Linked DNA regions of Homo sapiens. The protein of the gene in region 1 purifies or fractionates together with the protein of each later gene. This does not show direct contact. Each region holds a gene or a part of one and is shown in the gene's direction. Other genes may lie near its edges.

Region 1 (3,946 bases):
GCTTGTAGGTTCCTTAAAAAATATGTGATCAAAGTTTCAGACTGACTGTCAAATTAATTTCTGGAAAACAGACCATTGTGAGTTTATGGAGAGAGTCAAGAAGCAGCAATAAGGACTGCACTCTTGCCTGGACACTTTAACTAGTATGACCCTCTCCAGGCTCACCTCTCCTTTATTAGCTCTAAATTTCTGCATTCCTAAAAATGAGGAAGCTGAACTAGATTGCCTAGAAGATGCTTTAATGGTCTAACCTTCTATGCCATAGTAGGTTTTTATCTTCTCTTCTCTAATGTAAACATCAATGTCAGAGAGTCAATCAATATTGCAAAAGGTGAACAGAATAAAGACACCAATTCAGGAGAACACTTTCCCGTGTACAAGTCACACAACTGTCATCCAAGACAGTACAAACATTCTTGCCCCTACTGGTTCCACAGTACTCCTCTCCTAAGTACACTTCCATATTTCTTGCTGAACTTAAAATGCCAATAGAAGCGATTTCTTCACCTCCATCAGGGCCACACCTCAGGTAAAGGAAGCAGGGGTTTTCATCTTGGTTGTTCAATCTTCTCTTCTAAATCACCAGATTCTGGCTGAGAAGAAAACAGGTGAAAACATCACACAGTATAGTTTCTGAACATGGCTCAAAACCCACTTGTTAGGCCATGAGGTTTATTCTAACAAATGCTCAACACAGAATTCATAAGGAAATGGAGGCATCACACATCAGGGCTTCCCCCTCTATTTTTTCCTCAATCATCAACGTTCTACTCAGTCCCCTGCAATTGATTCTCGGATACATTACTGGACACCTACTGTGTGCACAGGAGTAGGAGCAGAACACAATAGAAGACAAAGTGTATCTTTTTCGAAATTAAGTCGACGGCGGTCGTCTATAGCTGGACTTTTTACACAGCCTGTTTTGGTGGAGAGGAGGTGGCTTGTTTGAGGGTAGATGGGCGGACTGACTTTGATAGCAGCCCTGACGACCCGTCACGCCTGACGGGGACGTTTATGAAATTCCAAGTCCTGGTCACCTTCCCCCGCTCATGCCTCGGGGCCTCGGGTACTTCCCGGCCAGACCTACCCCGCCTCCGCCCACCCCGGTCCTCGCCTCCACCTCGCAGCCCCGCTCCCCCGCAGAGACCCGACACCAACTGCTCTCCTGGATCCCGGACTCAGACCCTCACGTTCCCCGAGGAGCGCGGCAGTCGCCGAGCGCAGCGACCCGGTCGCCGGCGGCCCGGCGCACCGTGGCGCAGGTGGCGCCAGAAGCTCCTCCCAGTCGAAGTCGCGGGCGCAGACACGAGCCCGGGTGAGGAGGCTGTGAGTTAGGGCCCCGCCTGCGGCATCCCAGGAAGAGGCAAGCGTGGGGCGGCGGGTGAGGCCCCCGTCCTCGGACCGCGTGTCCACTGCGCCGCCTCCTGCCAGGCCTCTCTTCCAGTGCTTAAGTGTCGGCCAGTGCAGCGCAGAAACGGGCAGGCAGAGCGACTCCCGGCTTACATCATTTCAAATGCCCGCCGCTTCTGGATTTGGTGAGAACCTGCACCAGAGAAACGCATGCGCATAAGCCAACTGGACTCGAGAGGCGTTCAAACTTTGCTCAGGAAGCGCTAAAGAGCGGAGCATGCGCACTGGCAGGCCCTCGCTCAGCCTTTGGAGACCATGCGCAGGCGCGGTGCACTGTGCGCGGGCACCACGGCGGTTTTTCGACGCTGGCGGTGGACGCAGGCAGCATGGACCACGGTTGCTGGGCGGATGGGGAGCGTCTATGGTCAGGTAGGTGTCGTCTCTTCGCTCTACGCGATGTGCAGGACCGACTCCTGACCTCGTTCTTTCCCGAGTGGACGCCAGGGCCTTTTCTGCCTCCACTCCGTCGGGTCTGCAGCATTTGTGGCAGCGAACGCGGCGGAAGCGCTGTCCATTCGGGTTAATTTTACTCCGAACTCTCCCTGCCTCTCTCATACACATTCTCGCGTTAGAGGGGAGTTGAGGTAGATATTGAACGGCGTTAGTGGTGGACGCTGGGCCACACGGGCCTTCCCCAGGTGCCATCTCATTTGATGCTCCCTGATCCTACGGCGTTGCCAGGACTATGCTGGATGCCCTCGTGACAGAAATCAGAAGGTTGAGAAAGATCCCAGGTGTTTGGATGGAGCGGTCGCCTGAGGGAGTTTTCCAGATGCCCCATGGAATAGGAAGTAGATCTTGCCTCTTTCTTCCTTTTGTACTCCAGATGCATTCTAAGTTGTGTACACCAGACTTCCTGTTCTTTATGCCCAGCCCATTGTAGTCATAAGTTAACTTTGATACATGTCATCATAATTGGACAGTCTAAAGGAAAATAGGCTTTTTAGAATTACCTATCTGAAACTTCATGAGCAAGATCAATACTATAAGCTGGATTTTGACTTCCTTAAATAAGGCAGAAAGCCTACAGCATTTTGTCGTCTCCCCTTTCTTTCAATCTCGTATGTTCAGTATTATCACCCAGTCTTGTTTTATTTTTGGTTTTTAAAGAAAAACTTCCCTGTCTTTCTCCATCTCTGCCTCTCTGTTTTGAAATACTAGCTTTCATCGGAACAATTCCAGGAGTTTCTTTACTGGTTGATAGTCATTATCTCCTCACCTGCGTTTCATTTTCTGCACTGCCCTCTAATCTTTTATCAATTGTCCTGATGCTTGATGCTTTCTGACTGAATCACCATCACCATTACTTTTTTTTTTCTTTTGAGATGGAGTTTCAGTCTGTCACCCAGGCTGGAGTACAGTGGTGTGATCTCGGCTCCTGCAACTTCCGCCTCTTGGGTTCAAGCGATTCTCCTGCCTCAGCCTTCTGAGTAGCTGGGACTACAGGCGTGCACCACCAGGCCCAGCTAATTTTTGTATTTTTAGGAGAGACAGGGTTTTGCCATGTTGGCCAGGCTGGTCTCAAACTCCTGGCTTCAAGTGATCCGCCCGCCTCGGCTCCCAAAAGTGCTGGGATTACAAGCGTGAGCCACCGCACCTGGCCACCATTACTTCTTAACAGGCATACAAAGCCCTTTATCCTTGACTTCTGCCTGCCTCCTAGACCCCCCAGCTTTTGTACATGCTTTTCCCTCTACCTAGAATGCCCCTTCTTTTGGATAGGAAAAATCCTGTTCATCATTTAGTGCCAAGCACAGCCCTCCACACTGTGAGAGAATTTGTCAGTAATTTCTCTCTGCTACACTTAGAGTTTTTAGATACTATAATTCTCTTCTGGTATGGAGCTTTACCAAATAATTCTCACATTTGTTTTCCCAACCATCTGTACAGTTGTTGAAAATAGGAATTGTTTTGTGCCTAGTAGAGATTGAGTATAGGTTTGTTGTATGGAATTGATAGAGATAGCAATAGGGGTTGTTTGGGAACTCTATCACAGTATAACAGGAGTAGAAAGAGGTGAAACTGGCAAATTCAATCTTATTTTCAAAGCTGAAAAAACTTTGCAAAAGTTAGTGAGAAAATTATGACAGTGAAAGAGATCTGAGCTAATCCATCCCCAGTCTTGCCTTGATTATTCTTGGGCTTTTGGGACATTTAGGCTATAGTTTAAATTATCATAGGCCTTCCCCCAAACTCAACTGCTTTTGCATCAGGCTGGCAGGAGGAGAGGAGCCTGGGTCCTGCTAAGGTGCAGACATGAACTATTATCAGTTATTATTCAGAAGGTTATAAGATATGCAACTTCCCCAATTATTCCTGCAGATAACACCACTATTGTAGACTGGCCTTTTGAGATATCTTTTCAGGGTTTTTTTGCATGTCTGACACCCACCATTCCTACAGCCCCACCCAGAAGTGACTCAATGTGCAAGAGGACAGCTTCACCCCTTGTGATTTCATCTCTGCCCCAACTAATCAGCAGCAAGCCTAGCGACCTCCACCACTTCCCCCAAACTGCCTCTGAAAAATCCCTAAC
Region 2 (2,656 bases), on another chromosome or scaffold:
TACGGCAAGTCCAAGTTCTTCATCGAGGAAATGATCCGGGACCTGTGCCAGGCAGACAAGGTGAGGGCCCCCTTGACAGTGCCCTGGCTCCACTGATCGATGGACTCCTCAGGGCCCACCCTGAGCCCAGGGGTGGGATTCCGAACACCCCCACTAAGGAGGAAGCTAAGGCTCAGGCAGTTGCAGTGGAGGGCCCCATCCCCTGCTTGTTTCTAAAGATAATAAATAGACAACTGGCCGGGCGCAGTGGCTCATACCTGTAATCTCAGCACTTTGGGAGGCCCAGGTGGGCAGATCACCTGAGGTCAGGAGTTCAAGACCAGCCTGGACAACATGGTAAAACCCCCATCTCTACTAAAAATACAAACATTAGCCGGCCATGGTGGTGTGTGCCTGTGGTCCCAGCTATTCGGGAGGCTGAGGCACAAGAATTGCTTGAACCTGGAAGGCAGAGGTTGAAGTGAGCCAAATCAGGCCACTACACTCCAGCCTGGGCCATAGTGAGACTCCATCTCAAAAAAACAGAATAGGCATGAGGAGGGCTCTGGGTTCAGCTGGGACACGCTGCCTGTGCCTCTGGCCTCACCACCTGACCCACATCCCACAGACTTGGAACGCAGTGCTGCTGCGCTATTTCAACCCCACAGGTGCCCATGCCTCTGGCTGCATTGGTGAGGATCCCCAGGGCATACCCAACAACCTCATGCCTTATGTCTCCCAGGTAAGGCAAAAGGGAAGGGACAGAGGAGTGGCCCTGGGGTTAAAGCTGGTGCCTGGGATCTGGGACGAACTGACCTGATCTCCACCTCCAGGTGGCGATCGGGCGACGGGAGGCCCTGAATGTCTTTGGCAATGACTATGACACAGAGGATGGCACAGGTGAGCCTAGGACCAGGGGGACCTAGGAGTGGGAGCCAGGAAGGAGAGTCAGGGGGAACAGACTCCCCATCCAACACACTCCCTTCTCTGCAGGTGTCCGGGATTACATCCATGTCGTGGATCTGGCCAAGGGCCACATTGCAGCCTTAAGGAAGCTGAAAGAACAGTGTGGCTGCCGGGTAGGAAGAGAAGGGAGAAGTGAGGGAGGGGAGGGACCAGATCCAGGCAGAGCGGCCCAGAGGCGTGGTCAGTCCAGCCCGCTCCATAAACCCTGTTCTCCGTGGGCCAGATCTACAACCTGGGCACGGGCACAGGCTATTCAGTGCTGCAGATGGTCCAGGCTATGGAGAAGGCCTCTGGGAAGAAGGTAGGCCCCCCCGCCCCACCCACCTCACCCACCTCACCCCACCCAGCTCTCAGCAACAGAGCAGCTTTGGCCCTTCCCACTCACCTCTCTGGAGGGTACCTGGCACTGCCCAGTCTCCTCAGCCTGCCTAGCACCCGGTGCCTGCGGGCCAGCCGCTGCTCTGCACTTCTGCTTCTTAAAGACCTGGCCAGCAGCTGGGCCAGGGCCGGCTCAGCTAAGCTCCAACTACCTCCTGTCTTGCAGATCCCGTACAAGGTGGTGGCACGGCGGGAAGGTGATGTGGCAGCCTGTTACGCCAACCCCAGCCTGGCCCAAGAGGAGCTGGGGTGGACAGCAGCCTTAGGGCTGGACAGGATGTGTGAGTGCTGGCCTGACCCCTGCAGTTAGGGGCCAGGGAGGGGCTAAATCAGATCTGGGCATGCCCACCCAGGGCGGGCTGTGGGGTGGGGGAGGCTCTGCATTCCACCGTGGGCCCTGAGCACACACCTCGCCGTGTTGCAGGTGAGGATCTCTGGCGCTGGCAGAAGCAGAATCCTTCAGGCTTTGGCACGCAAGCCTGAGGACCCTCCCCTACCAAGGACCAGGAAAAGCAGCAGCTGCCTGCTCTCCAGCCTCTGGCAGGAACTCAGGGCCCTGGAGCTGCTGGGGCCAAGCCAAGGCCTCCCCTACCTCAAACCCCAGCTGGGCCCGCTTAGCCCACCAGGCATGAGGCCAAGGGCTCCACTGACCAGGAGGCCGAGGTCTCTAACTCTTATCTTCCACAGGGTCCAAGAGTTCATCAGGACCCCCAAGAGTGAGTGAGGGGGCAAGGCTCTGGCACAAAACCTCCTCCTCCCAGGCACTCATTTATATTGCTCTGAAAGAGCTTTCCAAAGTATTTAAAAATAAAAACAAGTTTTCTTACACTGGGGCAGGTTCTCACAGATGGTCACTATCCACCCCTGGAATAGAATCAGCCAGGCCTGAGCGTTGAGGAAGCAATTTCTTTAATTTTATCGGAATCCAGGACACAACAAGAAAAACACCCAAAAACCACATGGAGACAGAAGACGAGACACAACTCCTCCCCCACTGCCTCCCTGCTCTAGAGTGGGGACAAAGTGGGGGTGAGACAGCTGGGGGGAGACCTGAACCTCAGTCCAGCCCTACAGGCTCCAGGCCTGCAGGGAAGGAGGGTAACGGGGAGGCAGGGCCCAGCCCCCCAGTGTGGGGAAACAGCTGAGGGAAGGCCCCCCTCAAAAGGCTCCACCTCCTCACCAGCACTCCTGCCCAGGGACAGGGAGCCCACAGCAGCAAGGGGACCCCGGGGCCATGGCCACATTCATGACTGAGAAGCAGCTGAGTGGAGGCAGGAGACACGATTATCTGGGCAGAATCAGTTGGGGCAGGGGCCTGGGGGGGCCCCATGGG

What was found.
Region 2: the proteins of FAM24B (region 1) and GALE purify together in Homo sapiens (affinity purification with mass spectrometry; one large-scale study listed by BioGRID and IntAct). This does not show direct contact.

The regions. Positions count from the first base shown.
Region 1 is NC_000010.11:122,877,318-122,881,263, reverse strand, and holds the start of FAM24B (protein FAM24B precursor), read left to right. Parts: upstream 1-1,682; 5' UTR 1,683-1,779; intron 1,780-3,946.
Region 2 is NC_000001.11:23,795,099-23,797,754, reverse strand, and holds the end of GALE (UDP-glucose 4-epimerase), read left to right. Parts: coding exon 1-60; intron 61-607; coding exon 608-721; intron 722-812; coding exon 813-879; intron 880-972; coding exon 973-1,058; intron 1,059-1,168; coding exon 1,169-1,246; intron 1,247-1,489; coding exon 1,490-1,604; intron 1,605-1,747; coding exon 1,748-1,806; 3' UTR 1,807-2,156; downstream 2,157-2,656. UniProt on the Homo sapiens protein: Catalyzes two distinct but analogous reactions: the reversible epimerization of UDP-glucose to UDP-galactose and the reversible epimerization of UDP-N-acetylglucosamine to UDP-N-acetylgalactosamine.